2 separate regions of the Homo sapiens genome follow, and region 1 is linked to region 2. Evidence: fine-mapped QTL for protein levels in blood plasma. Region 2 holds a variant in brackets. A gene starts in the other region. All regions are shown on their reverse strands.

Region 1 (15,860 bases), not on the chromosome of region 2:
GCTTAAACAGCTGGGAGTTGAGCCAAGTGCCAACATTCACAAGCTGGTGAGTTTGGGTCTTAGTTTCTGCTTTAGTTATATGAGAAATTTGCCCCTTGAGTGATGATAATTGCTCCTTATAGTAAATCCGTGTCTGCATAAAGGCAAGGAGTCCTTGGATAGGGGTTGAGTAGGTCTGCAAACTCTAATATCATTTTTATTTTTCTGAATATTGCTCTGGGCTTTTCTGTCTCTGCCAGGTAACTTCAACATCTCCGCTGATGAGCCTATAACTGTGACACCTCCTGACTCACAATCATATATCTCCGTCAATTACTCTGTGAGAATCAATGAAACATATTTCACCAATGTCACTGTGCTAAATGGTTCTGTCTTCCTCAGTGTGATGGAGAAAGCCCAGAAAATGAATGATACTATATTTGGGTAGGTCTGTACCTAACCTAAGGTTAAGATGTTTGCTGTCATTTCTAAAGATGCAGTAAGAATGCATTTGCACCTAAATACAAAGTATATTTAAAATGCTTCTGGGTCAGTAGCTTTGCTGTCCATCTACATCTCACAGCAGGAGTTTAAAATAGGAGGTGAGGTATTTCATCTTCTTGCACATAATAGGTAGTAAATTAATGTTCGCTAAATAAATTAATGAATCTCAGGGCTCTCTCTTATTTCAGTAAAATTCTTGCAATAAATGTAACTTCTAAAGTCAAACATTTGAGATCTAGAACAGTGGTTCTTAACTCTTTTTGAATCACGGACCCCTTTGAAAATCAAGTGAATGTAATGAATGTTCATCCAGGAAAAAAATGAACATACACACAAAAATTGGCATTTGTTTATTTATTTATTTTACAGACAGCATCTTACTATGTTGCACAGGCTGGTCTTGAATTCCTGGGCTCAAGAGATCTGCCCACCTCAGCCTCCCAAAGTGCTGGGATTACAGGCATGAGCCACTGCCAAATTTAGCATTTCAACTGAGGGTTTCACAGATACCCTGAAGCTTCTCCCTGCCCTCGCTTTCAGAAAACTCATAGATCCCCAAACTAAAGTAACTGGTCAAGGAGGTCAAGTATTAAAATTAAAATAATGGCTTTGCCTCTGAAAAGTATGACTTATTTGGCTCCTTAACTCTAGTTGACAGTTATTTATCATATCTAACAACACAGTGTAGGATGCTATAAAGAAAATCAGAATAATAATATAATATACATTATAAAGGCTACCCTCAAGGGCTTTAAGGGAGGTAGAAAAATGACTACGGAATATAAAACAGATACTGACCTGTCACTTTTTAATAAACACAATATGAAATATCAAATTATCCTTTCCTGTTCCTCTTTTCTAAGGGAAAACTCAGTAACTTATGGTGTCTCTAGCACATGAGGATCATATGTTCTTCTACTGAATCAGTATCTTTAGCAGTTACTATCTTGGGGTGGAAGGTTGAAGCTGTTATCTGAAACCTATCTACCATGGCAGGTGGGGAGAGCAGAAACCATGAGCATCATTTCTCTAATTTAGCATGGAGTGTGGAGTGCCTGCATTAGAATCAGCTGGAGTGTTTATAAAGCATGCAGATTCCTGATCCCCAGCTCATATCTAAAAATAAAAATATCTATGGATAGGGCCAGGAAATCTGCATTTTTATAATGTCATCAAGTGATTCTCAGGTACATTAAAGTTTGAGAAATGCCTATTGTTGGTTTCCTTTGACAATTCTAAGTTCCAGTAACCTACTTGCTGTCACCCACAGTTTCACAATGGAGGAGCGCTCATGGGGGCCCTATATCACCTGTATTCAGGGCCTATGTGCCAACAATAATGACAGAACCTACTGGGAACTTCTGAGTGGAGGCGAACCACTGAGCCAAGGTAAGGGAGAGACATGCCAAAAAGACCCATGCTAAAAATGCCCAAATGGAGAGGGGTGTGAGCCTCTGTGGGGATTGGGCCAAGGGGTTAGTAGAGATGACATCCATTATTTGGTGATTTAGTGGCCAAATCATTTGACCCAGTTCTCTTTCTTCTTCCTTTTCAGGAGCTGGTAGTTACGTTGTCCGCAATGGAGAAAACTTGGAGGTTCGCTGGAGCAAATACTAATAAGCCCAAACTTTCCTCAGCTGCATAAAATCCATTTGCAGTGGAGTTCCATGTTTATTGTCCTTATGCCTTCTTCTTCATTTATCCCAGTACGAGCAGGAGAGTTAATAACCTCCCCTTCTCTCTCTACATGTTCAATAAAAGTTGTTGAAAGATTAACAACTATACAAAAAGAGCATGTTCTAATTAGTTCATTCTGAAAGGATTTTAAAATGTATTAGAGGAAAGTCCACCTAAGGAAAAACTGAAGTGAAAAGAAATGAGACCACATGTCTAATAAGCGGGGTTCTACTCAAGGTTCTCCTACTAACTATCTCAGTGGCATTGGGCAACTGGGTAAAATGGGGATAAGGTTCTAGGTCTAATGTTGCAGCAACAACCAATGAGATCAAGCAGAAAGTCTGTGAAAGACTGAGCTCTCTGAGGCCCAGATGCAAGAGAGGAGCCCATTGGTCACACTGATTTCATACAGGTAGTGGGTAAAAAAAACATGTTGCTCAGAAGAAAGGGGGAAACGTGAGGCATATACATAAAAGGTCTGCCCGTAGTTTGAGAAACAATCTCATCCCCTGCCTCCAGATGTCTCCCTTGGGTCCCACTTATTCTTCTCTTACATTTATTTTCCCTTTATTTCCCCATAAAATCACCCCAATATTCATGTCATCAAAATACATATGCAAAAAAGTCACTTATCATGTTCATTTCCACAGAATTCACTTTTTTCCTTTTTTATTTTTCTAATCAATTTTTGTCATGCTAAGAAGTCACGTCTTAAAGGAAAAAAGTTGAATCACATCAAGGCAGCATGAGCTTGTACTTATACTGAGTACCTGGGCTACATGCAGTACAGTCAGAAACTAGAAGGACACTTAAGATACCAAAGGACAAAAGGTACTTTATGTAAAGTGTAAAGTAACCCATTTAAAGTAATTTCCTGCAAATAAAAACCACAATGAGACACCATGCCACACCAGTCACAATGGCTACTATTAAAAAGTCAGAAAATAACAGATGCTAGTGAGGTTATGGAGAAAAAGAAACACATACACTGTTGGTAGGAGTGTAAATTAGTTCAACCACTGGGGAAAGCAGTGTGGAGATTGCTCAAAGAGCTAAAAACAGAACTACCATTCAACCCAGCAATCTCATTACTGGGTATATACCCAAAGGACTATAAATCATTCTACATCTAAATCTAATATAAACCGCGTGTATGTGTATTGCAGCACTATTCACAATAGCAAAAATATGGAATCAACCTAAATGTCCATCAATGATAGACTTTTAAAGAAAACACAGTACATATACACTATGGAATACTATGCAGCCATAAAAAATGAGATCATATCCTTTGCAGGAACATGGATGGAGCCAGAGGCCATTATCCTTAGCAAACTAACACAGGAAACTGCATATTCTCACTTATAAGTGGGAACTAAATGATGAGAACACATGGACACATAGAGGGGAACAACACACACTGGGGCCTATGAGAGGGTGGAGGGTGGCGAGGAGGGCGAAGATCAGGAAAAATAACGAATGGATACTAGGCTTAATGCCTGGGTGATGAAATAATCTGTAAAACAAACCCCCATGTCATGGGTTTACCTACACAACAAACCTGCACATGTATACCTGAACTTAAAGTTTAAAATAAAGTAATTTTTAAAAGAAAAATGCCTTCAGGTAGAATTAGTTGAATTATTATTTATTTTATTATTTTTTTTAGACAGAGTTTCGCTCTTGTTGCCCAGGCTGGAGTGCAATGGTGTGATCTCGGCTCATCGCAACCTCCGCCTCCTGGGTTCAAGTGATTCTCCTGCCTTGGCCTCCTGAGTAGCTGGGATTACAGGCATGCACCACCATGCCCAGCTAATTTTGTATTTTTAGTAGAGGTGGGGTTTCTCCATGTTGGCCAGGCTGGTCTCGAACTCTTAACCTCAGGTGATCCACCCACCTTGGCCTCCTAAAGCACTGGGATTACAGGCGTGAGCCACCACGCCCAGCCAGGTGAATTATTTTAACAATGTCTTCCTCATTTCTCCTGTGTTTTCTTCACAATCATCCTAGCTTCCTCTCCTTCACCAGTGACACTGCTTCACAGTCAGAGATTGAACCCTCTTCCAACATACTGCTTTCTGCTATTGATACTCGATGCTCAGGTTCAACTCTGCCCTGGTCTTCATTAACTGGATGTAACACATGACCCTCATGAGTGGACAGAAATGGATTCTATCCCTTGGGTCTGTGTCTCATCTTTAAAGCTAAGTTAGAAAATATATACACCTACTGTGTACCCACAAAAATTAAAAATATAATAACAATAATAATAATAATAATAATAAAGCTAAATTAGAGAAGCTGGGAGCCATGTTACCCTTCCAGGATCCCTGGTGCTGTTAATCGTCAGATCTGTTTGTAGCCTATACAAGCTATGTGAAATTGAAGGATACTGGTTTAAGGTGAGAAATATGCAAAATGTCAGAATTGCATACTAGCAATTAGCACTACTAGCATTTATTTCTAACAGACAGAGCCTAGTTTCTCCCAGCCAGAGGTCTTAAAGTATAATGTAGGCCGGACGCAGTGGCTCACGCCTGTAATCCCAGCACATTGGGAGGCTGAGGCAGGTGGATCACTAGGTCAGGAGATCGAGACTATCCTGGCCAACATGGTGAAACCCCGTCTCTACTAAAAATGCAAAAATTAGCAAGGTGTGGTGGCATGCGCCTGTAGTGCCAACTACTCGGGAGGCTAAGGCAGGAGAATCGCTTGAATCTGGGAGGCGGAGGCTGCAGTGAGCCGAGAATGCGCCACTGCACTCCAGCCTGGGAAACAGAGCTAGACTCTGTCTCAAAAAAAAAAAAAGTATAATGTAGTAAGTAACATTGCTGTCTGATATAAATGCCTTTAATCTCAGAAGTAGACATGAAATAACACTCCCTTAGGGTTCCACTAACATCGGCCCTTGAAACCTAGTTCTGAGGACAGGCGTGGTGGCTCATGCCTGTAATCCCAGTACTTTGGGAGGCCAAGGCAGGCAGATAACTGAGGTTAAGAGTTTGAGACCAGCCTGGCCAACATGGCGAAACCCCACCTCTACTAAAAATACAAAAATTAGCTGGGCATATTGGCAGGCAATTGTAATCCCAGCTACTCAGGAGGCTGAGGCAGGAGAATCACTTGAACCCGGGAGGCAGAGGTTGCAGTGAGCTGAGATCACACCATTGTACCCCAGCCTGGGCAACACAGCCAGACTCCATCTCAGAAAAACATAAAAATAAAAATAAAAATAAGAAACCTAATTGGCCACACTTGCCTTACAAGAAGCTCCTACAGCTTGAGACTATTACAGAACCTGAACTGAGTCTGAAGAGAGAAACTTCCTTTTGCTGCCACAGCAAAGAATAATCACCACAAATAAACCTCACTTATGTCCAGAGAGAGTCTAGGTGCTTTGATACCAAAATATTAGGCACAGGAGAAACAAGGAAATAAATGAACACATCATCCCAGTCAATAGTTAACCAAGGACTGTCAAAATATCCCTGTTAAGAAATGTATGGCCTGTGTGGTTCCTGTTCTGGGAATTATTTACTAACTGCAACAATTGTGTCACGATCAATCTTGCAGCAGCCCTGGTTGTAAATGGTAATTTATAATACAAGGAAGTGAGTGGTTAAAGAGCTGGCAGGCCAAGGGTGTGTGGATCATCTCAGGACGATCAGGAGCAGGCTCTGGAATGCAAAGTCAGCACCATACTGTACTCATAATCCTGTATTAGATTCTTATTGTTGCTGTAACAGATTACCACTAATTTTGTTATTTAAGACAAATTTATCATCTCACAGTTCTGGAAGTCAGAGTCTCACTGGGCTAAAATCAAGGTGTCGAAGGAGCTGTGTTCCTTCTAGAGGTGGCAGCAGTAAACCAAGTTCTTTCCCTACTTTGTATGGGTCACAAAGAAGGAACATGCAATTGGACAAAAGCAATTGGGTCGTATTCACTGGCCAGGGAATGGAGAAGGGGAGCTCTCGCTCTAAAGGCGCATTCTCCTTAAGCAATGGGAAGCAGGGAAATTTTCAAGAGTTAGACATGGGGCAGGGAGGTATGTAAGCAGGCCGAGGGTGGAGTTCCAAACACGCAGGCGCAGTCCCCAGACATACTTCTTCATACCTCGCATGTACACAAAATGGCAGCGATTTTCTTTTAAGGGAGAGGAATCTAGTATTATAATGATATGTTAATGATCTAAAAGTAACTAGGGGTTGCCGGTTCTGGTTTGCACCGGTCTGGTGCAGGTCTTATCTTCCTCTGGTATTTGGCAAGGGATCATGAAGCTCCTGAAGCATCCTGGGCCATCTGGAGCTCTTTAAGCAGTGGCATCTATAGATAAAAAGGCTAAGGGGACATCCCATTACTGGGTATATACCCAAAGGACTATAAATCATGCTGCTATAAAGACACATGCACACATATGTTTATTGTGGCACTATTCACAATAGCAAAGACTTGGAACCAACCCAAGTGTCCAACAATGATAGACTGGATTAAGAAAATGTGGCACATATACACCATGGAATACTATGCAGCCATAAAAAATGATGAGTTCATGTCCTTTGTAGGCACATGGATGAAATTGGAAATCATCATTCTCAGTAAACTATTGCAAGGACAAAAAACCAAACACCGCATGTTCTCACTCATAGATGGGAATTGAACAATGAGAACACATGGACACAGGAAGGGGAACATCACACTCTGGGGACTGTTGTGGGGTGGGGGGATGGGGGAGGGATAGCATTAGGAGATATACCTAATGCTAAATGATGAGTTAACGGGTGCAGCACGCCAGCATGGCACATGTATACACATGTAACTAACCTGCACATTGTGCACATGTACCCTAAAACTTAAAGTATAATTAAAAAAAAAAGAAAAAAAAGGAACAGGGACAATCTTAAAAAAAAAAAAAAGGCTAAGGGAAAACAACAGTTTAAGAAAATAAGAAGCCCTCCCAGCTATTTCCGTAGGGCTCCCCTAGTAACAGAGCTTGTGAAGAAGAATCCATTTCCTTGCCTTTTCCAGCTTCTGGAGGCTGCCCACGTTGCATGGCTCATGGCCCCTGTCCACCTACAAAGCCAGCAATTGCATCATTCTGACTTCTGCCTCTAACATCACATTTGCTTTTCTGATTCTAACGCTCTTGCCTTCCTCTGCCACTAACAAGGACCTCTGTGATGACATTGAGCCCACCCAGATGATCCAAGCTAACCTTCCTCTCTTAAAGTCAGCTCATTAGCCACCTTAATTCCATGTGCATCTTTAATTCTTCCTGGCCATATAACCCACGTAACATGTTCACAAGTTCCAGGGATTAGGGCATGGGCATTTGGCGGTGTGTGGGCAGTGCCATTATTCTGCCTCCTACTCCTTCACACAGCATGCAAGGCTGTCCACCAAGTAGATGCCAACTGTCTTTCCAGCCTCATCTTCCACCATGTACCATGTATTGGATATATATTGCTGCATAACAAGTGACTTTAAAACTTAGGGGCCTAAGACAACATTTATTATCCCACAGTTTCTGTGGGTCAGGAGTCCAGGGAGGGTTTACATGGGTCCTCTGGCTTAGGAGGGTCTCTCCCAGGGCTGCAATCAAGATGTCAGCTGGGGCTGCCTTCATCTCAAAGCTCACTGGGGAAGGGTTCTTTTCTCCCTGAATATCGGCTGGAGGCTACTCTCAGGGGCCATATGTGGGCTTCTCCATAAGGCAGCTCACACTTAGCAGCTGCCTTCATGAGAGCAGGAAGGGCAAGAGAGAGAAGGCAAGCAAGAGGGAAATCGGTCTTTTGCAACCACATCCCATCACCTTTGCTGCATTATATTCATTATAATAGAATGTGGCCCCAGGCCAGCCCACACTCTAGGGAAGAGGACTACACAAGGCATGAATACCGGGAGGTGAAAACACAGGGCCATGTTAGAAGTTGTCCAGCACACCCCAGTATGTACCCTGTGCTCTCATCTCACAAAACTCACCCATGTTTCCCAAGGGGGAAAAAATGCTTTATTACCCATGTCTTACATTTGCTCATTAATTCACTCATTCAAAAAGTATTTTATTTCTACTGTGAGCTAGGTAGTGTTGTAAGGGCTAAGGATAGAGCAGTGAGCCAAAGAGACAAAGCCCCTCCCTCGTGGAGCAGACATTCTAGTAGGGAGATAAACAAACGATAAACAACCACACACTTAGTGCGACAGAGGGCAATGAGTTATAGCAGGCGAGGGGCATGAGGGGTGTCAGTGGAGGTGAGGATGTAGGATCTTATGTAGGGTGGCCTGGGAAGGCGTCTCTAAAAGCTTACCTCTGAGCAGAGACATGAAGGATGTGAGGAAGCCACCATGAGGCTATTTAAAAGAAGAGGGTCCTGGGCTGAGGGGGACATCATGTGCAAAGGTAGCTGATGTGTTCAAGGGGCACAAGAAGTTCTGTGTGATGGGAGCGGTGTGAGCAAAGGGGAAAACGCCTGGAGCTGAGGTCAGAAAGGAAACCAGGAGCCAGATCTTCTAAGGTCTTATAGGTCATGAAAAGGGCTTTGACTTTTATGCTAAGATGGGCGCCACTGGAGAATATCCCCTTAAAATGAGCTACTTTACATGCAGGAAAAAAACAAACAAAACTCCTTTCTTTATAATTTCAACATACCATTTTCAGTTCTCCCTTATAAAGAAGTATAATTTGCATTATAATGTAGCTACACATCTGAAATATGTATTCTTAATGGATCTCACATTTTCTAATTACTTACTTTAAAAGATAATATCTGAAAGCTTTGGGTGTTTGAGATGGCTTTTATCTCCAGATAAGGAAAGAGAAATCAAACAAAACCATTTCTGGGAAACCGAGGTCCATTTCTTGCCTAAAGTCAAACAACTTCAAAGAGTCTAGGCTAGAATCCAGGTCCAGGTAGACATCATTAATTTCACAAAGCCAGATGTCACCTGGCAGATCCCTGCCTGAGAGCCTAAAAGGACATGTTGTAAAGCAGGTGTCTAGGATCATAAAATGAGCTGATGCCTATGAATGGCCTAAATCCCAGTGAAGTAGTTACTAAAAAGCAGCCTGGTAACTGATTGGATACAATAAGGGCTAGAAGAGGTCTTGTTGATACTAGCACATTATCCAAACTTCCTGATGTCTGACCCAGGCCTTTGGTAAAGGACATTTTCTCAACATTGCCTTCACTGCATACCCAGCCCCAGGTTTCTCATATGACTGTGCAACCTAGAAGTCACCTTCAGACACCTTGGAGGGTCTATAGTCGGTAAACTTAGATAAGCAAATGAAAATTTACTTACTTGTATCAGGAAAGGAGAGGTCAGCACAGGGGCAGTTAGGAGAGGCTGGGTTGGGGACAGATTATTTAACAAAGGGAAGCACATATAAGAGAAGGTAAAGAAATATTCCACTTGCAAATCGCGGTACCTGTGGATGAGAGACATAGACGAGAGAGTGAGATGGCCTGGTTTGCCCTCTACCTCCTGAGCCTTCTCTGGGCTACAGCTGGGACTAGTACCCAGACCCAGAGTTCATGCTGTGAGTATGATGTTTTTCCAAGGAGGTCAGGGAAGCAGTTGCCCTGGGGAAGGGGCTGTGACCTCTGACACTGAGTGGTTGAAAATAGCAATCACTATAGGAATTCCAAAATGGGTAAGTCTGAGTGTGATTGTGTGCTGTTCATCCTTCCTGACTTAATAGCATAAGTTCTTTGAGAGACAAGTCTATATGTTTTTTATTAAGAGAGATGGGGCCAGGTGCAGTGGCTCACACCTGTAATCCCAGCACTTTGGGAGACTGAAGCAGGAGGATTGCTTGAGCCCAAGAGTTCAAGACCAGCCTGGGCAACATGGTGAGACTCCATCTCTACAAAAAAAATAAATAAATAAAAATAAAAAATTAGCTGGGCGCAGTGGCATGCACCTGTGGTCCCAGCTACTCAGAAAGCTGAGGTAGGAGAATCGCTTGAGCCCAGGAGGTCGAGGCTGCAGTGAGCTATAATCACACCACTGCACTCCAGCCTAGATGACACAGCAGCACCCTGTCTCAAAAAATCAATAAATAAAAATAATAGAGATGGAAGTACTACTGCAGGAATAATGGTTGATGGTACAAAGACAGACACTCAGTGGCTATTGTGACCAGACACCACTACATACTAGTGAGAGATTTTGGTACTCACTGAGGATAAATTATATCCCAAATCTTTAATACTCTTCATGAAAGAGTAAGGAAAAAAATGAATGCAAGGAAATCAGTGATTTCCAGGAAAGTGATAGAAACTATGAGAAATGTCATGAGCCATATTGCTTGAAGTTACTAAATTTAAAAATCACTTTCTTAAGGATATGGATTATTTGAGAAGATGTAGAAACTAATTGTCCTCAAAAGTAAAATCTCACCATTTTCTCCATTTCTCTTTAGTGACTTAGGACACTAATGCTAATCAAGTGTTCTCCTAAAAGGCATCAAAGATGGCCAGGCGAGGTGGCTCACGCCTGTAATCCCAGCACTTTGGGAGGCCAAGAAGGGTGGATTACCTGAGGTCAGAAATTCGAGACTACCCTGGCCAACATGGTGAAACCCCATCTCTACTAAAAATACAAAAATTAGCCTGGCGTGGTGGTGCACACCTGTAATCCCAGCTACTCAGGAAGCTGAGGCAGGAGAATCACTTGAACCTGGGAGGCAGAGTTTGCAGTGAGCCGAGATCGTGCCATTGCACTCTAGCCTGGGCAACAAGAGTAACACTGTCTCAAAAAAAAAAGAAAGAAAGAAAAAGCATCAAAGACACGGGGATAATGTTTTTGAGAAGGAATGAGGGTTAGAAGGTGAGTAAATGGCTTTCCTCTTCTCAGCCGTTCCCTCAGCACAGGAGCCCTTGGTCAATGGAATACAAGTACTCATGGAGAACTCGGTGACTTCATCAGCCTACCCAAACCCCAGCATCCTGATTGCCATGAATCTGGCCGGAGCCTACAACTTGAAGGCCCAGAAGCTCCTGACTTACCAGCTCATGTCCAGCGACAACAACGGTGAGACATCTGAGCCGCTCGCACTCTCCCTGAATCTCACACATCACATACCACCTCCAGATTCCAACTCAGCGTCCTTCCCACCCCAATGCTGCCTCTGACTGTAAATAAACTACCCAAACACCTTTCCTTACATACCTGGAAGGTACCTGGAAAGAAACATGTGTGAAGTCAGAGCATTCATGGAGGAGGTCAGTAAAGCAGGGAGAGCTCTGGACTAGACGTCGAAAGAGCAGCCTTCTGGTTCTGGCTCTGCCACGTCATAACTCTGGGATCTGAGACAAGTCACTGGATACTGCTCAGCCTCACCTTGCAGATGATTGTAGTAACAATAACCCTACTACTACTAATAGCAATGATAATAATAATAAAATCTCTGTTCTGCCTATCTCCCAGGAGCTGCCTGCAGGCTCAAGTTAGATAAAGTTTAAATTATTTTGCAACTGTAAATTTCTGTATATAAATCTATATGAGTATTTTGCTGCTTTTCTAATCAAATACCAGGGATTCTCAAATACCAAATACTAGAGTCATCAAGTTACACAGAGGCCACTAGATTAAATATTCCCTTACGTATTCTTCCATATTTTTTTCTTTGGAAAGACAGATCAAAGAACTGCTCATATTATTAAAAAGTCAAAATGCTCTAGATAAAAAGCAGAGAACTCATCACTGGCTCCTGGAGAGCTGTCCCCTGAGGATGTCTCTGTCTAACCGTTGTGTTCTCTTCTCTGCAGATCTAACCATTGGGCAGCTCGGCCTCACCATCATGGCCCTCACCTCCTCCTGCCGAGACCCTGGGGATAAAGTATCCATTCTACAAAGACAAATGGAGAACTGGGCACCTTCCAGTAAGACCTGACTGGAAGGGAGAAAAGAGTCAGGCATATGGTTTTACCTAAGAATTTTAAACCCAGAAAGGAAAAGGGTGGGGGTGGAGAGAAAGGCAAGTTAGGGAAGAGACAATGTATCCTTCACTCTGGTCCTTCTGATAATCCAGACCAGAAAGATTCATTTCCAATCCAAAATGAACTAGAAAAGGTCATGATCCCAAGGACACAAGCTTGTCCAGCCATCACCTGTCTAAAGACACAGAGTCATCCCTTTTATTCTTTGCAGATGCCTGATGACATTCTTTTGAAAAACACTGAAGTTGCTCTTTGCCTATGCTGTGTCTCTCTTTGGGGGCAGGTTTTCTAGCAATTTCCTTTTCAAAGGCTTGGCTTTTCCTTCTTTGCAAATGTCCTCATCGTGGTGACTGTGAGTCTGATGAAGGTTCTCTATCCCCTTCGGAGGCCCCAACGCTGAAGCATCAGCCTTCTATGGGCCCAGTCTAGCGATCTTGGCACTGTGCCAGAAGAACTCTGAGGCGACCTTGCCGATAGCCGTCCGCTTTGCCAAGACCCTGCTGGCCAACTCCTCTCCCTTCAATGTAGGTGAGTAGGTCACCACTACCCCGAGCTGGGAACATCAGAGGCATCGTGAACTGAATGGTGGAGCTGGCAGGGAAGTGACAAAGGAGAGCGTCCCATGGAGGAGGAGCTAAGGATGTGAACGTGCCTGTGGATGGGAGATATTTACCAGATGTTTGTTGGGCAGGTGAATTGAGGAGTAAGTGAAGGAAGAGGGGGTAGTATTATGTAGAAACAAGGACAATTGATAATACTTGATATGTCTGGCAGCTACAGAATCTCCGCTGGGAACAATAGTAATGCCATTCAAGTCAGAAGTTCTTCCCAAATTAAATATGAATGTCTTGCTTCAGTTCTCCTCTGCATCCTCTCTTTAATCACTACTGATGCTCCCACACTCCATTCTTTTCGATGCTTCTCCTCATTACATCCAAATATCCTCTCTCCATTAAACAGCTACTCTCGGAACCCTAACTCGTGATATTTCCCTTCATGGCAACTCGGGGACCACCTTGCGTCTTTGTTCTGCAAGCATATGGCTGCTTGTGAATAGAAGCTTTTCCCTCTACAACATCATGTCCTCCTTCTGTCCCCTTCTATGGATAATGATCCTTCTCTGTGGGGGCCACTGTCACAGCCCGCATTCATGATCACCTTTTCTCCTCTGCCAACTCTCTAAGCAATAGTATTATCTCAGGTTTTCACTCCCTTATGCATGCCCCATCAGCAACCTCTCTTGTTTCAGTTTCTGTCAGACAAACAGGTGAACCACTGCTCTAGGATCCTCCCTGGGGGTTAAGAACAGACTGGTCTCCCTTTCACATCTGGGACCTCACACATTTCTGGGGCATCTCTGCCTCCAAAAATTTGGACTTATTTACTTCTGGTTGTCAGTAACACTAGCACCCTTAACGAAGTTATGCAACTTTCAAATGGAGATTTGGCCCTGCTGCTTACTTAATTTTTCTGAGCCTCCATTTTTTGTCTCTTAAATGGAGATGATTACAGGTACTGTTTCACAGGTTGTTCTGAGGAGCAAATAAAATCATGGAGCCAGAATATAATAAGCACACAATAAATGTTAGCTGTTCATATTGCTGTGATGGTGACTATGGTGATCTTATACCCTCTGTCATTCACAGACACAGGAGCAATGGCAACCTTGGCTCTGACCTGTATGTACAACAAGATCCCTGTAGGTTCAGAGGAAGGTTACAGATCCCTGTTTGGTCAGGTACTAAAGGATATTGTGGAGAAAATCAGCATGAAGATCAAAGATAATGGCATCATTGGAGACATCTACAGTACTGGCCTCGCCATGCAGGTAAACACGTGCTGGATGCTCTTGGTTGGGTTCCTGCCAATAAGCCTGGATTGCAGAATCAAGAGGCCAGGCTTCTACTAACATCTCTGTGAAAGTCCAGCTAGTATGACCTGAGATATATTCTTTGTGGTGCCTGGGCCTCAGTTTCTCTACTGGTAAAATGCAGGTAAGTGTTAATTCCTCCCTACCTCCTATGTAAAGTGTGAAAACAAATCTATATGAACTTGTTTCTCTTTCTTGGGAAAAAAAATGAAACAAATAAATCAAGAAATATATTAATTTATTATTAATAATGATCAGTTTATTTGTAATAGTTACAGACTATTACAATTTTGATGTATAAATAATAAGAATATTAAAGCAGGCCCTCTAAAAATATACAATTTTCTGATGCAATCTTACCAGCCAAGTGTTCTTTTTCAGTGTTTTACCTTGATCTAAAAATAGCAAGTTTATACTCAAAATGATTAAGGAAAATAACCTAAAGTTGACCCAGCCTCACAAAAACCCATAGTAAATGGTAAAGCAGATCTATCTGTCAGCCAAGTCCATATTCAATTCTGTGCTTTCACAGCATGCATTCCCAGGCTTGGATTCTGTAAGATGTGTTTGGTATTCATAGTTCCAAATCCAACAACCCACCCTACCCTAGTTGATTAGGGCAGCAGCCTCCATAGAAGACAGATGCACCAATGGTGGTGGGCAGAAATAACCAACTAGAATCAGAAACTAGCAACCATCTGTGGCTGAATCCTCTAATCCCAACTAAGAAGTTTGAGCTCCAGTGTCTCAAAATGTCCTATGGGGATTAATAGGACCAGGGACTCTTCAACTCAGAAAGCCCACTAAAGGGAGAATCATGGAATGGTGATGCCAGCCCTAAACCTAACATAGTTGCGGACTATTAGAAAGAAATTGTCTCCTGGGGAAAACAATGGAGACTAGTATTGAGATTTCATACATTAAAAATTAGAAAAGGATATAAGCAGCCTAAGAATTGGTTCATGTTAAACATAAGAGCAAAAAAAAAAAAATTTCCACTTCAATGGACCACATATAGAAGTGACTAATAAAAATAGAGTTCATTTCTATGTCACAGTCAAGGAGACTTTGTCATAGAACAAAACCCTGTTTTTTCCATGGCTGAATTTTACAAGAACATTCCCAGTGCTCTGGTCTAGAAGCTTTTTGGAAAGAAAAAGGCAGTCTGGAAGAGATATAAAAGATGGTTTGGGGATTTTTTTTTTTTATGTGTGACTCTCTAAAAATAACCTTGCTTCAATTTATCACCAGACAGTGAAGTGTTTACTTTTGCTAACTTGGTTTGTGAATTCTGTTTGGATTTTATCACCTGCCAAGTACACTTTGATAAGCTGTACCTGGGAATTAGAGCTTTTCCTATCAAAAGGCAGGACCCTGTCTACATCCAAATACCACAGGCCATGTGGATTTCTTGTCAGAATACATAATCTCTCCCTACCCTTTTTACTGCCTCTATCTGGAACTTATTTAGGCATCCTGAAATCTGGAATCAATAGGTGTCTAATATATAATATTTTCCTAATCTAAAATATTCTGATATAGAAAATCAAAGGGCTCTGGAACTATCACAATTTAGGTTTGACTCCCACACCTGCCACCATCTCAGACAAATATTGAATTTCCCCAGATTTTATTTTCCCCATAATAATAAGGTTGCAATTAGGTTAAATAAAATGTGGTATGCAAAAAAATGCATGCATAATGTAATGCTTAACAATTGTTCAAGATCTGTCTCAGCAGAGCAGTGATGCTAGTAAAGTTCCTTTTCAGCCTTTGTTCACCTTCTTCCAAGATGTCAGTACACTTCCAGTGGCCCAGGCCACACTCTTCCCTACCCAAAGACGCTCATGAGGCATTTCCTCTGTTCCAGAACTTCTCATCTTTCT
Region 2 (15,860 bases):
AAAGGAAGAAGAGGAGGAAAAGAAAGAAGAAAAGGAGGGAAAAAGGAAGGAAGGAGGGAAGGAAGGGAGAGAGGGAGGAAAAGAATAAAGAAAAAAGAAATAAAAGTATATGGAATAGAAAATATTGTGACACAGCCATCACATGTTTTGAGGCTAAATATTGTTGCAATTCTACCTACACCCGTGTGCATTGGCTTATGGTATAAGATGTATTTTTATAGTAAGACAGTCTGAGCCAGAGGGGCCCACAGGGCAACTGCAGATGTTTGCATGGAGGGGTTCCCCCCCTCAGAGGAGCTGCCCCTAATCTGTATTGAGAAAGATGAATCTGCTTATCTGTGTGGAAGCTTTCAAAAGGACTTGAGGGGACTGAAAAGGGGGAAAGGATGGGAATGTGGAGCAAGGAGATCAGATCAGAAGAGGAAGAGATGAGAGTTCAAAAGGAAAAAATTAAAGTGAAATGAAATTAAGAACATTAGTCATGTGAGACAAGAACAAAAATAGTAGACTCTGACAAGAAATCAGCCAGGAAGATAGGCCCAGACTCAAATGCTTTCTTGAGTGAAAGAACAAAGGGGAGAAAATCTAAACCCCAAACCAAAACAACCCTGCTTTCGTGTTCCTTCTTGCATCCACTGAGCCAAACCTCCAGCTGCCTCATGCCGCTGCAGGCACTTGTGGCAAAAGCACACATGAACCACGCTGGACATCAGAGGCTTGTGGGTGCCTAGGGGCCTTGTGACCTCCAGCTACCCTGAGCTGTGAAATCAGAGCTGAAGGAAGCAAATGTGACAAGACCTGGTCTGAGCGATGGGCGGGGAGGTGGACTGACAATGCTCAGCCCCCCTGGGAGGTTCATGTTTAATGCCTGCTGAACACCCCATGTCCTTGACCCAGACTCTCAACTCATCACGAACTCAGCTGCAACAACAATTGAGCACAGGGAATGAACAGGTGTCACGATCCTGTTATGAACAGGGAGAAACTGGGTCTCAGAGGAGTCCAGGAAATGGCCAGGATCAGTAAGAAAAAAAAGAAATAAAAGTACGTGGAATAGAAAATATCATGGCACAGCCATCACATGTTTTGAATCAGTAAGTGACAGGACTGTGACTCAAGATGCCCTCTGAACTCCATGCAGGGCTCTTTTCACCACAACAGGGACTTCCAAAGCATATGTTTGGAGGAGACTGACCCATGCTGATCACACAGAGAGACCGTACTTGCCATTTATGCCACAGGCTTCTATGCCCCCACCTCTCGCCAAGTCCCTACTCTAAGGTTTGGACGGTCACTCCGTAGAGGTGAGGTACGTAGGATACATTTGGTGGGAGGTGGGAAGCCCAAGAACAAGCCTTTCTACTCTCTCCCATCCAAGTACTAACCAGGTCCAACCCTGCAACCTTTCTTCTCTTTCAGGAATCCAAAACAGGCCTGGCGGGTAGAAGGCAGTCCTTTCTTCACAAGAAGCTTAGGGTCTCCTTTCTTCTCCTAAAACTTGAATGCTAAGAAAAAAATGCCAATTCACTCCCATACAAAAATTTATGAACACCTGGTTCTGTGTTATACTCACACCCATTTTGTGTTCCCTTGGCATAAATACAATGTCGCTTACCCACCTCTGCTCTTCTTCCTAGTTTCCTTTTCCATTTCTCTTTATGTCCTAAAGGACCCAGTTCTTTCTGGGAGCTCAGGCAATGCCCAGCAGATTCTAATTGAGAGTGACAAGGAGGTGACATAAAAGCTCTGGAAAGGACACTCACTTCCAAAGGATGTCTGGGGAACTGAAACGGGAACTTTGAGACCTGCTCACCTGCCAGATGAAATGTCCTTAAGAAGAGAATATCTAGAGAGGCAGGGGCTGGGGGAAAGGCACGCGGACATGTGGGGGCTGGGAGAAGCTGGGTGATATGAGGACTACTGTGACCTCTGTCACCTGTCATCTTCCTCCTGTGTGACAGACTGCTCACTAGGAAAGAGAGAGTGCTATCCTACTACCACTCAAGAGGAAACATTAGGTTACATGAAATTAGGCAGAAGTCTTTACTTTAGGACATAATGAGATTAATAAGCAAACTCCCAAAGTCAGGTGTGGGATCCAGATTTGGGGGTCCCGAAGCTGATTTTGGTGCCCTCTCCCTTTTTTAAAAAAATGAGATGAGGTCTTGCCATGTTGCCCAGGCTGGTCTTAAATTCCTGGGCTCAAATGATCCTCCCACCTCTGCCTCCCAAAGTGCTGGGATTGGTGGCCCTTTTAAGATAAGGAACACTAGGTGCAGGCGAGGTATATTCAGTGCTGTTCTACAGAAGAGGAAAGTGGGTTTCAGAGCGGTCCGGGAATATGTGATTCTGAGAACACAAATCATGAATATACCTTAGGTGTAAGTCTTTGAATGGGACCTATATGAATAAATCTTATACCTCCTCAGTTTATGGTCAGTCCACCTCTGTATACTATGTTTTCTGAACTTTTTTTTTTTTTTTTGAGACGGAGTCTCGCTCTGTCTCCCAGGCTGGAGTGCAGTGGCGCGATCTTGGCTCACTGCAAGCTCCGCCTCCCGGGTTCACGCCATTCTCCTGCCTCAGCCTCCTGAGTAGCTGGGACTACAGGCGCCTGCCACCACGCCTGGCTAATTTTTTGTATTTTATTTAGTAAAGACGGGGTTTCACTGTTAGCCAGGAAGGTCTCAATCTCCTGACCTCGTGATCCACCCGCCTCAGCCTCCCAAAGTGCTGGGATTTCAGGCGTGAGCCACCGCGCCCGGCCTCTGAACATTTTGTTTTAACCACTTTTTCTTTGTGGTGGGCGACAGTACCCAAGGGATCATGTTCAAAAAACACTTCTGGAACTCCGACCTAGTCTACACAGAAAGGCTGCAGGGTCTTTGGCGGCACGCCTGGCTTTGCTGGGCAGATGGCCGGGCACCTGCGATGGCTCCGCTTGAGTCCCTTTTTAGCACTGCTTTTCAAATCTCCTGAACGCAGTGGTATTTGGACTGGTACTTCTCTGACACATGAAGATAAAGAAAGAAACGTCACTTTCACCTGGATGTGGGCTTCAAGGGATTTATTTATTTATTTATTTATTTATTTATAGACAGTCTCATTCTGTCACCAGGCTGGAGTGCAGTGGCGTGATCTCGGCTCACTGCAATCTCTGCCTCCCGGGTTCAAGCGATTCTCCTGCCTCTGCCTCCCAAGTAGCTGGAATTACAGCTGCATGCCATCACACCCAGCTAATTTTTGTATTTTTAGTAGAGACGAGGTTTCACCATGTTGGCCAGGATGGTCTCGATCTCCTGACCTCATGATCCACCCGCCTCGGACTCCCAGGGTGATGGGATTACAGGATCGAGCCACTGCGCCCGGCTGATTTATTGTTTTTTGTTATTGTTGTTGTTTTCTGTTTTTCTTCAAGTCAGCTCTGTTGCCCAGGCTGGAGCGCAGTGGCACGATCTCGGCTCACTGCAATCTCCGCCTCCCGGGTTCAAGCTATTTTCCTGCCTCAGCCTCCCGAGTAGCTGGGACTACAAGCATGTGCCACCACACCCGGCTAATTTTTTTTTATTTTTAGTAGAGATGGGGTTTCACCGTGTAAGCCAGGATGGTCTCAATCTCCTGACCTTGTGATCCACCCACCTTGGCCTCCCAAAGTGCTGGGATTACAGGCGTGAGCCACCGCTCCCGGCTGGGTTTTTTTGCTATTGATTAATTCTGGACATGACTTAAAAAGCCGAACCATCCCAAAAACCAGACCAGGAAGTGGTACCTTTTAAAGAGAATGAGCTTGGCTGGGCGTGGTGGCTCACACCTGCAATCCCAGCACTTCGGGAGGCCAAGGTGAGAGGATCACCTGAGGTCGGGAGTTGGAGACCAGCCTGGCCAATATGGTGAAACCCCATCTCTACTAAAAATACAAAAATTAGCCGGGCGTAGTGGCAGGCACCTGTAATCCCAGCTACTCGGGAGGCTAAGGCAGGAGAATCACTTGAACCTGGGAGGCAGAGGTTGCAGTGAGCCGAGCTCACACCACTGTACTCCAGCCTGGGTGACAGAGTGAGACTCTGCTCCAAAATAAATAAAATAAAATAAAATAAAATAAAATAAAATAAAATAAAATAAAATAAAATAAAATGTAAAGTAAAGTAAAATAAAATAAAATAAAATAAATAACGAGAATGAGCCAACACCCTGAAAACCAAATCTCTGGGATGCATCTTGGCCAGAGCAGCAGAAAACTCTGCCGAAAACAACTTAGATGTTGTTCCTTTCATTTTGCTGGCTTTTAAAATACTGCTTATTTCTGATTCATGTCACACAAGTCAGTGTGTGACAATTGTCAAAGATGAACTGGGGCTGTGCCTTTAAGAGAACACTGCTAATGTGTCTCTGATTACATGAACAATACCACTCTCTGGCATGTTAACTCATCACAGTTGATTGTCAAATGCATATGCTCATGCTGAAATCTCCGTGATAACACATTTGTCAATATTTCTAGTTGTAATTTGGTTCAATAGTGATACAGGTATCAATAAGATCTGAATTAAATGTGAGATGACTGGCCTTAAATTAGAGCACAAAGGATTCAGATTAGCTCAGAAGATTTACTAAGAGGAACAATTACTAAGCACAGAAATAGGTTATTAAGGGAAGTTGTGGAATCTGTTTCTCTGGCAGTTCTTAAAATAAGACAATGAGTATCTATAGAAGAAGTTCCCAGGATCCTGACAGAAGGAAGATAGCTTTATTTAGCTGTCAAGGTCTACTCACTAAAATCATAGATACTCTGCTAAAAGTATGCGTTGAAGAGCCTTATATCCTCATATGGTTTGGCTGTGTCCCCACCCAAATCTCATTTTGAATTGTAATCCCTATAATCCCCACATAAAGAGGGAGGGACCTGGTGGGAGGTAATTGAATCATGGGGCGGGGTGGGGGAGGGTGCGGGCAGTTCCCCCATGCTGTTCTCATGATAGTGAGTGAGTTTTCATGAGATTTGACGGTTTTATAAGGCAGTTTTCCCTGCTCTTGCTAGTTCTCTCTCCTGGCACCATGTGAAGAAAGTACTTGCTTCCCCTTCACCTTCTGCCATGATTGTAAGTTTCCTGAGGCCTCCCAAGCCAGGTGGAATTGTGAGTCAATTAAACCTATTTCCTTTATAGATTATCCAGTCTCTGGCAGTTCTTTATAGTAGTGTGAGAATGGACTAATACATACCCAGGTGGCATTTTGACTCCTCAGTGTCTTACTTGCTGATGCTATTTATGATAGAAGAGTTAGAAATTCCATTTCGTGGCACGCTAGCCAGGTATGAACTGGCCGTTAGCTCATTAACTAAACTAGCAGTTAGTCATTACTAACTCTGCAGTTCTGTCTTACACACTCTGGTGATTACACCCTATAAGGTAAGGTAATTATTATTATTTCCAATAGTATAATTATTACCTACCATTTTTGAGCACTTACTATACATTAGACATTGTGCTAGTTCTTTACACATATCACATCGTTTTCCCCTCATAACAACATTTTAAGATCTGTATTATTATATCGATTTCACAGAAGTTTCAACTGAGTCTTGGAGAGGCTAAGTAACCTGCTGAAGATCATACAGCAAGATTCAGACCCAGGCCTGTCCGACTCTAAAGCCTTTGCTTTTATGTAATACAAGGTGTGGTTAATGTTTCTAAAAGCATATCAAACAGCATATAACATTGGCTCTTATATGTAGTCACATTGGGCAGCTCTACTCTTCTGTGGGTGCTCAGAAGATGCTGGGATCTCTTTTGGACTTGCCTTCATTTCCATAGGCTTTTCAGAAGTTCACAAAGAATGACATAATTTCCATCAATCCCTGAAAATTCAAATAAGGTGAGAAAGACCTTAATGAATATTGACTGTTTAATAACTTGAGGTTCTCATTAGAAAAATAAAAGTTCTGCTGCTAAATATGTTTAAAACTATAATACATTGTGACAAAAATGCTTCAATTTATTTAAGGACATGTCCTGGGGGAAAGGGAAACCTGAGGATTGTTCAAAGCCAAACCTGGTGAATTGGGTGAATAATTAATCCATTTATAAAAAATGAGGTGTGAATGATAAAATAATGATGTTGATTTTCTTACGGGACATTGTGACATAGGCATTGATTATGTAA[A/T]TCCTATATTCATATCACAATTAGCTATGGCCCCATCTCTGACATCCATCTGGGAGCCCACACAATGACCTAATAACATCTCACCTTTTCAATGACCAGTATCCAAGAAAAGACCAAAATGATGACCTAAAGAAAATTCATTATTTTAGCAGCTGGTGGACTTGGGAGTAAGACAGATTGTGGAGCTGATGATACTGCATGAAATGTTTCCCCTTGTTAGCAAGATTGTCAAAAATGTGCTCCTCTGCTATTTTCTCTATCACAGAGAAGGTGGGAGGTGAGATCTTCTTCTTGGTGTCTGTAACATACATTTTCCTTACAGAAGATGTAGGTCAGTGATAAGCATGACTTTCATAAGTATATTTTGTGCCTATCATAAATGGGAACAATTTTAGCCCCATAACAAAAGAAACAGCACAATATTCTTTTTGCTAAGAATTCTGAATTTATTATATTTAAAGTCTTGATTCCGTTTCTGATGGAGATTGGGTTGTTATGCTGGTTGTCATCCACAGCCAAATGCAGCCAAAATTGGGTTTATTTTCTCTCCTTGTGCTCCTTACAAACGCTTAGCAGGTCTGAAGTTCTCTTTGTTGACAATGGCTCCATCCTCCTGTCAGCTTTCTATGATCCTAACCTTGTTAAACCTTTTCCTCTATCATTTTGTCCAGAAAAATCACCAATTCCATGATTCCTTGTCCTACAGGATTTTCAAAGCTGTGCACTGTCTCTGTTCTCACAGGTTCAGACCAGCTTGGACCTAAGCATTGTTAGTTAGACAATGGAAATAGCCTTATTTGTCTCTTGTGTCTAGCTTTCTCGGTCAGACCATCCTGGCCAGCAGCAAACATTCTTTTCATCACTTGCCTGACAAATTTAAATCAGGATTATTCAGCAAGCATTCTGTCAGCTTATTACTCATCTCATTGTCTTGTACGCCTTATTGCAGCCATCAAACCCTTCATTGTTCCATCCTTTAACCACATCCACTTCTGAGGCATCCACATACTCTTCTGCCTGCCACTTTCCACCAAGTGATCCACTTCGTCCCTTTCCAACACTGCCCAAGATTGCCCTTTGTCATGAAGTTTCCCAAGAGTATATGTGATTTCCCAAAACTCTCTTCAACATCCTTTGATCCCTTAGGCACTGAATTGTACAATATAACCAAAGGTGGAAATTAAAAAATTACATGGAATTTTGTTTGTACTTCTACCCTCACCATAAATTGTTCAAGCTTCTTTTGTCCAAGAGTAAGGTCTCCATTTTGGCACAACACCCGAACCTTGGGTGCTCTCTACACACAGGACAGGTTTCCATCAGCTCATGCTTAGTGCAGCGTCATCTTTAAAAAGCTCCACATCTTCCTTTAAAACACAGAAGTTAAAAGATCCTTTCCTGGGCTGGGCGCGGTGGCTCACGCCTGTAATCCCAACACTTTGGGAGGCCGAGGCGGGCGGATCACGAGGTCAGGAGATCGAGACCATCCTGGCTAACATGGTGAAACCCCATCTCTACTAAAAACACAAAAAAATTAGCTGGGCGTGGTGGCAGGCGCCTGTAGTCTCAGCTACTCGGGAGGCTGAGGCAGGAGAATGGCGTGAACCCGGGAGGCGGAGCTTGCAGTGAGCTGAGACCATGCCACTGCACTCCAGCCCGGGCAACAGAGTGAGACTCCGTCTCAAAAAAAAAAAAAAAAAAGAAGATCCTTTCCTGTGCTATGTAACTGAAACTTCTCTTGCTGGATTTCATCCACCCACTCAACAACTTGATCTTATTTATAAAGACTTTCCTCTGTAAGGAAATCATTGACTCTAAATCTGAGCTTTAAAATAATTCTTTTTTCTAAATCTTATTTACATGTTGAATGGCAAAAAAAAAAAAAAAAGGATTTGAGATTTTTAAAAAGCAATTTCTGTCTGCAGACAGACAAATTGTGAAACTGTCAACCTGGAGTTAAGATGCCCGTTAAGCTATTCAATTAGAATATGTTTATTTTGTTAAATAGTTGATATTTGTTAGGTAGATTCATATATTATATAAACTTATCCCCACAATAAAGCTTGGCAATGGATTTCATTATCCTCATATTATAGACAATGAAACCAAAGCTCAACACAAGGTCACCAAGTTACAGGTGGTAGAGCAAGATTGGTGCTCTGGTGTCTAGCCATCTAAGCCCAGTGTTCTTTCTTACTCCTGAACCCACAACCTCTGGTTAGCTCCAAGCCTCCTAATGAGAAGGAGGTGAAGGACCACACTGCATGACTGACAATGCTGCTGAGGTCAACAGACCTATGGGCAATGTGGCATGTTGATCAGATATTTAATTCCCAAATGGATTTGGAATTATTTCCCGGTGTTTCATTCAGTTCCACCGTTTTGTCTATTTATGAGTTAGCATACACTTTCAGTTATCAAAGCTTTATATTTCAGCATCTGGTAGAGCTAGTTCCTCCCTCATTAGACTTTTCCCCCTCAGATTTTTCTTTGTGCTTTGAATCAACTTAGTTCACAAGACCATTATGAATTTTTTTGTCATATATCAAATTTATAGCTTAAATCATGAGAGTTGACATCTTTTTTCATTTTTGAAACAGAGTTTCGCCCTCGTTGCCCAGGCTGGAGTGCAATGGCGCGATCTCAGCTCACAGCAACCTCTGCCTCCCAGGTTCAAGTGATTCTCCTGCCTCAGCCTCCCAAGTAGCTGTGATTACAGGCATGTGCCACCAAACCCCCCCGCTAATTTTTTTGTATTTTTTTTTTAGTAGAGACAGGGTTTCACCATGTTGGTCAGGCTGGTCTCGAACTCCTGACCTCAGATGATACATCTGCCTTGGGCTCCCAAAGTGCTGGATTACAGGTGTGAACCACTGTGCCTGGCCAAGAGTTGACATCTTGATAATATTTTCCATCTTCCTAATAAAACAAATAGATTTTTCCATCTGCACTAGTGTTCTTTTGTGTTTCCCAGTACTCATGTCTTTGTGGCTTTCCCAATCATAAAGGTAAATCTTTCTATCACTTTTTGAATCGTGTTTCAGTGTTGCTTTCTTTCCCTCTCTCTTCCTTCTTTCAAACAGCACATATGGGCACACATACAAACTTCATTGACAGAGTCATCGAGGGCATTTGAAAGAAATTGAAGAAAAAGGTCCAGGCCCTTTAATGACAGGCACATGATAAGGTGTTCTTTCTCTCTGGAGGAGCATGGCAGTCTGAAACACTCCGCGATCATAGCCTTCATGATGCAGGGACTTTTGTGTTTTGTTCATTGTGGTTTTTCCAAGTGCCCAGGGCAGTACTTGGCACATCGTGGCACTTAATAAATATTTGTTGAGTGAATGAAGAAAAACCCAGTACATGCCTTCCCAAATTCTACTGAAAAGCAGTTATGTTTACCACTATACTATCGATGCCACCCCAAATCCCACTGAAACAAGGCCTTTGGTTTATATTTTCTGGCAGCTGAAACTATGGGTATTTTGTTGTAGAAAGTCTGTTGAGAAGAGAAGCAGTATATAGAGTGTTATCATCTTCCCATGTTGGTTAGACTGACCTGTTTCTCCATTAGAGTATTAGTAATAAATGCCCAATGCTTTATTGAAAACAAATAACCATATTCCATTTTTGCTTCTTAGCAGCCGAAGCCTTGAGATTCACACTTGCACAATGATGTCTTTCAAACTGCATCCTGACAGATACTTCTTGAGCTGTCATAAGGCCTATGGAGAACATCCAGTCAATGTGTAGGTTAAGTTGTCAATGAACAATTATGGTTCTTCTGAGCCATGTTTTAAAGCAAGGCATTGTGCCCCTCCAGTGCTGCAGTGTGTCCGGGCTGTGTGGGATGCAAAGTGTGTGCAGGAAATACAGTCACACTGTGGTTTTACACGGAAGCTCAGGTTGCCTCTTATGAATATGTATGATGGGGCTGGATCATGCTCTTGCCACTTGAGTTTACTTGAGCTTAACTTAACCCCCACATACCCATTTCCTGCCTATCATTTGAAGACGTTCCTTGAGGAGGTTTGAAAAAGTGAGTTGTTTCTCCAATTGTGGAGCATTTTCCTTTTTTTTTCTCTTAAAGATGATGACAAACTACACCCTGATTTATTTTTATTCACTGTGAGTCATTTGCTAGTCTTATTTTATAGATAATATTTTATACCTCTTGCTTAGAAGCAGATGGGAAAGTTCAAGGAAACACCCCCTGCAACAGAGGAAAAGTACTCGGATCTAGATTGCTATGATGGTGTCCTTGCTGGAGTCCTGATAAGCAGCCCTGTCAGGGGGAAAGGAACAGATGGCAAATGGTCTTTGCAGAGCAGCATTTGGAGTGTTTTATCTTTGTTTTAGAAATGACTGTTACTCTGCATTTACTGTGAACTCTGCGTACTCCTGAGAATGCAGAAAATAAGCTGGAAAGTCTTTCCTATTATTCGTAAAACAGGTCACTGGATGTAAAGGGTACTTGGCCAACTGGGAGCGCTCTCTCTCTCTCTCTCTCTCTCTCTCACACACACACACACACACACACACGCCAATTGTTGTTACTGGTTATCTTTATGAGAGGAAATGGGGGAGGGGAGAGGAGCTCTAGCTGCTCTGTCGCCAAAAGGCAGAGCTCCAGAAAGCCGAGTGGGGAGCCGCATGCGCTGAGAAATGCCAGCATGTGTCACTTCCCAATCTGGCGTACACACTCAACTCCTGTTTGACATACTTTACAAAGCAGACAGGGACTGGCAGGGGTGTTTCCTCTGGACAAACATTAATGAGTGAGGAAATGGGCAAATGTAGGTTGCTATGCAGTTGTTTTGCTGTTGATGTGGGAGTAAAGCCAGGCAGCACTTAGACTGGGGGAATGTTCTCATGATTTCATGGAGGTCGCTACCCTCCCATAAGAGAACTCACGCTCATGGGTTTTCCTTAAATGACAGCAGTTGGGAAGAAAATGTGCCTTCGTCTTGATGTGCTGCTCTTGTTTCTCTGTGGGCTGTCAGTCCCTTTCCGAGATCTGTTAGGTACAAAATCGGGGCTATTCTATATTACCGGTTTCTAATGAACTGCCTGTTTTGTTTGCTTTTAGTGTTAGTCATTCTTTTTCTATATAACACTCATATTTTAAAAATTTCTCAACACTGTTTTTGGCATTTAAAGTTCATGATTTAAGAGCTGATGGTTTTGCCTTGTCATTAAATGGTGAAATAACAGGGTTAAAGTGAGGTTAACAGGATTTAGAACCCCTATTTGACCAGTCTTTCTTTCGCCTGAAAAATGGTAGGGAAAAGGGAGGGAGGAAGGAAGGAAGGAAAAAAGTCTATTCAAGGAAAAATCTTAAATAGGTGAGATTATTGACTGAATTCAAGTTTATCTGAGCTAAACCTTTTTATATGCTGTTCCCATGTCATACTTTATTGATTCAACACATAGCTTTCAAGAGTAGGTTCTGTGCCAGGTATACGAGAAAAACAGCATTTTGGCTACCATTTAATAATAGACTCTTTTAATTCTCTTCCTAAAAAGTAAGTTCTTTTTTCATTGTGTATCTCATATTCTGTCTCCACTGCCACTAGAGTAACTAGAGTACCTGTGACTTTTATTAACACAATTTTGTTTCGTGAAAAGTTTATGGGTTATCTTTTCCCTATATCCAGGTATCTTTACTCTGTTCAGCTATCCTGGACCACACAACTTAATCCAAGGCCTTGGAAGCATGTTGTATTTTACAGTCTTGCAAATTTGCTTTTCAGTGAAGTCTTTGCAGCCTTCCATCCCAGGCCCAGATTGCTTCTAGACACCTCGCTCATGAACTCCAGTTGCTTGTGTACTCATCTGTCTCCAGACAGGCTGTGAGTAACTTAAGGGCAGGGCCTGTGCCTTGTTCATCTGTGAAGTGATGGCAATATAGTCCGAACTTAATAAATATTTGCAGGAAGAAATGAATATTCCCAAAGATATCTTTGTCTATATATTCCGACCTTTTGGCCTTCTATTTTATAGGATTGAACTCTAAGAGTTAGTAGGTTTGTCGGTTGAAGTCTATATATGTTTTTTAAATTTTAGTAGATGCTGCCAGATTGTTTCCCCCCCGTCCCCCCCCCAAAAAAGCAACTCTTTCTCCCATATTTCTACCAGTAATAGGTTGTATTGGTCTTTTAGATTTTTGACAGTTTAGTAGCTATAAAGTGATATTGCAATGTTTAATTTTTATTTTCCTGGCTATAAGTGAGCTTGAGTATCTTTATATATGTTCATTGGTTCAGATTTGCTGTTCCGTGAATTAAGGTTTTACGTATTTTGCCTATTTTAATACATAAAAGTTTGCACATGTTTAAATATATTTACAAGCAAAAAGTATAAAACTCCTATACCTAAAAATTTCAAGCCACTTTACCTAAAAATTTCTATGTATCCTACAGAAATACTTAGATATATAAACAAAAATAAATGCATAAGCATCTCATTAGCACATTCTTTGTAATAACAGAAAATGAAGTTTAATAAAAAGGAAGTAGTTTAGTAAGTGTTGGTGCTTCCTCACTGTAGAATTGAATGAGGAGCTAAAAAGAATGAGGTAAGGCCAGGTGCAGTGGCTCATGGCTATAATCCCAGCACTTTGGGAGGCCGAGGCGGGAGGATTGCTTGAGCCCAGGAGTTTCATTCCATCCTGGGCAACATGGCAAAATTTTATCTCTACAAAAAATACAAAAATTAGCTGGGCATGGTGGCACACACCTGTAGTCCCAGCTACTGGGGAGGCTGAGGTGGTGAGAGGATCATCTGAGCCTGGGAAGTTGAGGCTGCAATGAGCTGAGGCTCCAATGAGCTCAGTCTGGGTGACAGAGTAAGAGCCTGTCTCAAAAAAGAAAAAAAAAAAAAAAGCAGATGAGGAGGAATATGAGAAGGAAACCCAGGAGGACTGCTGGGACCAGCCTGGAGGGACCAGTACTTGGGGTCACAGAGTTGGAATGGCATCCATGGCAGAGTTGTGATCTCTCTCCAGGAGAGATAGCCTGGGCTCAGACAGGGAGATATGAAGATGAACTCATTGAAGTTTGGGGATTTGCCAGGCCAATGAGGGGCAAGGGAACTGAGATACTGAAGAGAATGGTTAAAGGGATGGCTCATGAGAGCTCCATGGGGTAGGGAAGCAGTGAAGTGAAGAGGACACTAATAGGGAAAGAATTCCAGGACTGGAATCACAAAGCGAGAGTCTTTTTGGGGTGTGGGAAGAGTAGCTAAGCGAGAAGTGGAAGAGGAGGGGATTGTGATTGGAGAGAAAAGTTCCCTATAAGACTAGACCACATTGATGAGGAGGACGGAAAGGAAAAAAGGAATTAGATGTTCAAAAATGTAAGAAAAGAAAATATGACATGGTGGCGTTTCCTGATATCTCAAGTTGAGAAAAGAAAGTTAAAAGAGAAGTGAATACTGGAAGACAGTGAAGGTTTTGTATAATTTAAAGTAAGTGGCACATAAAATAAAAATTCCAGGAGGTTCAAATGTATGTTTCATCAGTTGAGGTTACCCTAAGATAAAAGTTGAAATTATGTTAAAACTTTCTGAAACTCTCAGAAGACCTAACATCTCAAAGGGGCTAGATTCTAGAAAGAAAAAGCTTGCCAATTCCAGTTCTGGCTAGGCATTCTTAGAATACCTTAGAGTAGGTTTTAGTCTTACAGGGTTTCTGCTTTCAGAATATCAACAGGTCTTGACAAATAAAGCTTTTGAAATTTCCCTCTACTGAAATGCTCCATCTGCATTTCAGGATAGTGATGGAAATGCATCAGCTTCATTTCTGGCACTTTGATTGATGAACTTAGACTTCAATATGAAGAAAACCACTGTTCTTCTATCTAGAAAATGAAACTAAAAATAATCCCCTTGTCAGAGTGTCTGTGTTCTGTGGTTAAATTTAAGGCAACTTATTGAGTATTCATTACATGCTGGATACGAGCCCTTCCCTGACAGAGAGCACAGAGCACTACCAGAGGAGCTGGGACACACACCTACATAGACGGCCGTGATACTTCTTAAGAAGCAGCTCCCAAATCTACCCAATTAGCACAGTGCTCACTGTGGGCAAAAAGCTGAGAGCAACAATGTGGGGGCGGGCTTAGCAGGAAAGGCCTCCCAGGCATTGCATAAATGCAAGAGGTCAGAGAAAGAATTCACACCAGGCAAGGAAATTATTTATGGTATTGCAAGGGTGAAAAGATTTTTTTTCAAATCTCCTGGTATCTCTGTTACTCTGCCCTAGTGTTTGGACATATGGAGTTACCATTCCCATTAAATTATTAAAATGTGCCAGAAGACTTGGAATCCCTCAAGAGCATATTGTGAGAAGGGCTCACACACCTCCAATTATGCCTTTGGCACAAGTGCCATGTCAGATTGATGTCTGGAAAAGGATTGAGATTTGGAAAACCACATAATGATTTCTTGTATTGTTTTATCCTTCATTTTGTGCAAATCACACTTACCATGCCATTAGTAGCTTCCTCACAACTCAACAATGTTAAGAGGGACTTGCTAGCTAACTTGATCCCTAATGGAAACCTTTTACTAGGGAGGGCTGGATTTGGTTCCGGGGTCAAGGCAAACACCCTTCAATGAGCCCATGCCATGCCTTGTAACTATATTTTAAACATTTTCATTGTTCCTTCTGCAGAAATTATATCTCTTCCTCCCTTCTGCAAATTGTCCAAGCCCAAAAAGATATTTTGTGCTTATTTAGTGTTATCTCACAGTCTGGGGCAAATTATCAATAAAACAAGAAGCCAAAATCTAATAAGAAAAGGCAGGATATGAGAGGGTATGCATCTCTGCTGCATGAAGAGAAGACAGCAGCACCTCTCGTTTTCTTTTAGAGACTGTTCGGCCCCATGAGTTTATTAAAACAGAAGAAATAAGTTGAAAATGGAAAAGGGTGTGTGTGGGTGATGTGGTTACTTAGCAACAGGGAAGCTTCCGGCTGATGTTCTGAATTGAACAAAGAAAAACAGGACAGCAGGGAATAAAGGAATGGGGAAAAAATGAAAGGGAGTAAAACAGATGTGGTTGGGAGAGAGGGCTAAGAAGGGGTGAAAAATAAAAGTCAGGGAAAAAGCATGAACAGAAATGTGGTAAATACTTAGAAACAGGAAGCCTGTGAATTTTTAAAAATGGAAAAAAAAGCCACTGAAAGAAAGGTGAAAATAGCCAGAAGGGTAAGAAAACATCTGCAGTGGAAGCTGCTAGGCAAATGGAGGAATAAAATGCCCCAGCGCCATGAACTCTTAGCTTAAAACTAGGCTCTTTTGGCCAGGCGTGGTGGCTCAAGCCTGTAATCCCAGCACTGTGGGAGGCCGAGGCAGGAGGATCACTTGAAGTCAGGAGTTTGAGACCAGCCTGGCCAACGTGGTGAAACCCTGTCTCTACTAAAAATACAAAAATTAGCCGGGCATGGTGGCGGGTGCCTGCAATCCCAGCTACTCGGAAGGCTGAGGCAGGACAATCACTTGAAAACCCAGGAGGCGGAGGATGCAGTGAGCAGAGATCAAGCCACTGCACTCCAACCTGGGCGACAGTGCAAGACTTTGTCTCAAAACAAAAAAGCAAAACAAAACAGAACACTAGGCTGTTTTGTGGTGTGTGAGGTCACACCAGGGTGCACCTGAGGCAAGGGGCCCAGAACAAACCCCAGGCCACCAGTC

Which allele goes with the higher level. Positions count from the first base shown, and alleles are read on the strand shown. Strength reflects both the effect of a copy and how common the allele is.
For the plasma level of the protein whose gene starts at base 9,576 in region 1, allele A in region 2 goes with a lower level than allele T (moderate association).

Evidence for each region. PIP is the posterior inclusion probability: the model's chance that the variant is causal. Protein levels are from antibody-based Olink assays in UK Biobank. Linkage for the fine-mapping came from a reference panel and not from the study's own genotypes, which makes the PIPs less certain.
Region 1: CBLIF starts here. The variant in region 2 is fine-mapped to the plasma level of the CBLIF protein (UK Biobank, PIP above 0.99).

The regions. Positions count from the first base shown.
Region 1 is chr11:59,839,215-59,855,074 of GRCh38, reverse strand. It overlaps CBLIF (cobalamin binding intrinsic factor), which reads left to right and starts at 9,576. Exons shown (of 9, transcript NM_005142.3): 1 at 9,576-9,700; 2 at 11,020-11,196; 3 at 11,934-12,047; 4 at 12,492-12,632; 5 at 13,751-13,932. The coding sequence starts at 9,622. It overlaps TCN1 (transcobalamin 1), which reads left to right. Exons shown (of 9, transcript NM_001062.4): 7 at 240-423; 8 at 1,754-1,872; 9 at 2,039-2,267. The coding sequence ends at 2,100.
Region 2 is chr6:118,704,377-118,720,236 of GRCh38, reverse strand. It overlaps a transcript of CEP85L not described here. Among named protein-coding and RNA genes, the nearest start is that of CEP85L, 61 kb to the right of the region's middle. RefSeq lists an enhancer at 194-243 and silencers at 10,110-10,159, 14,057-14,351. The variant A/T (reference allele first, on the strand shown) is at 6,163.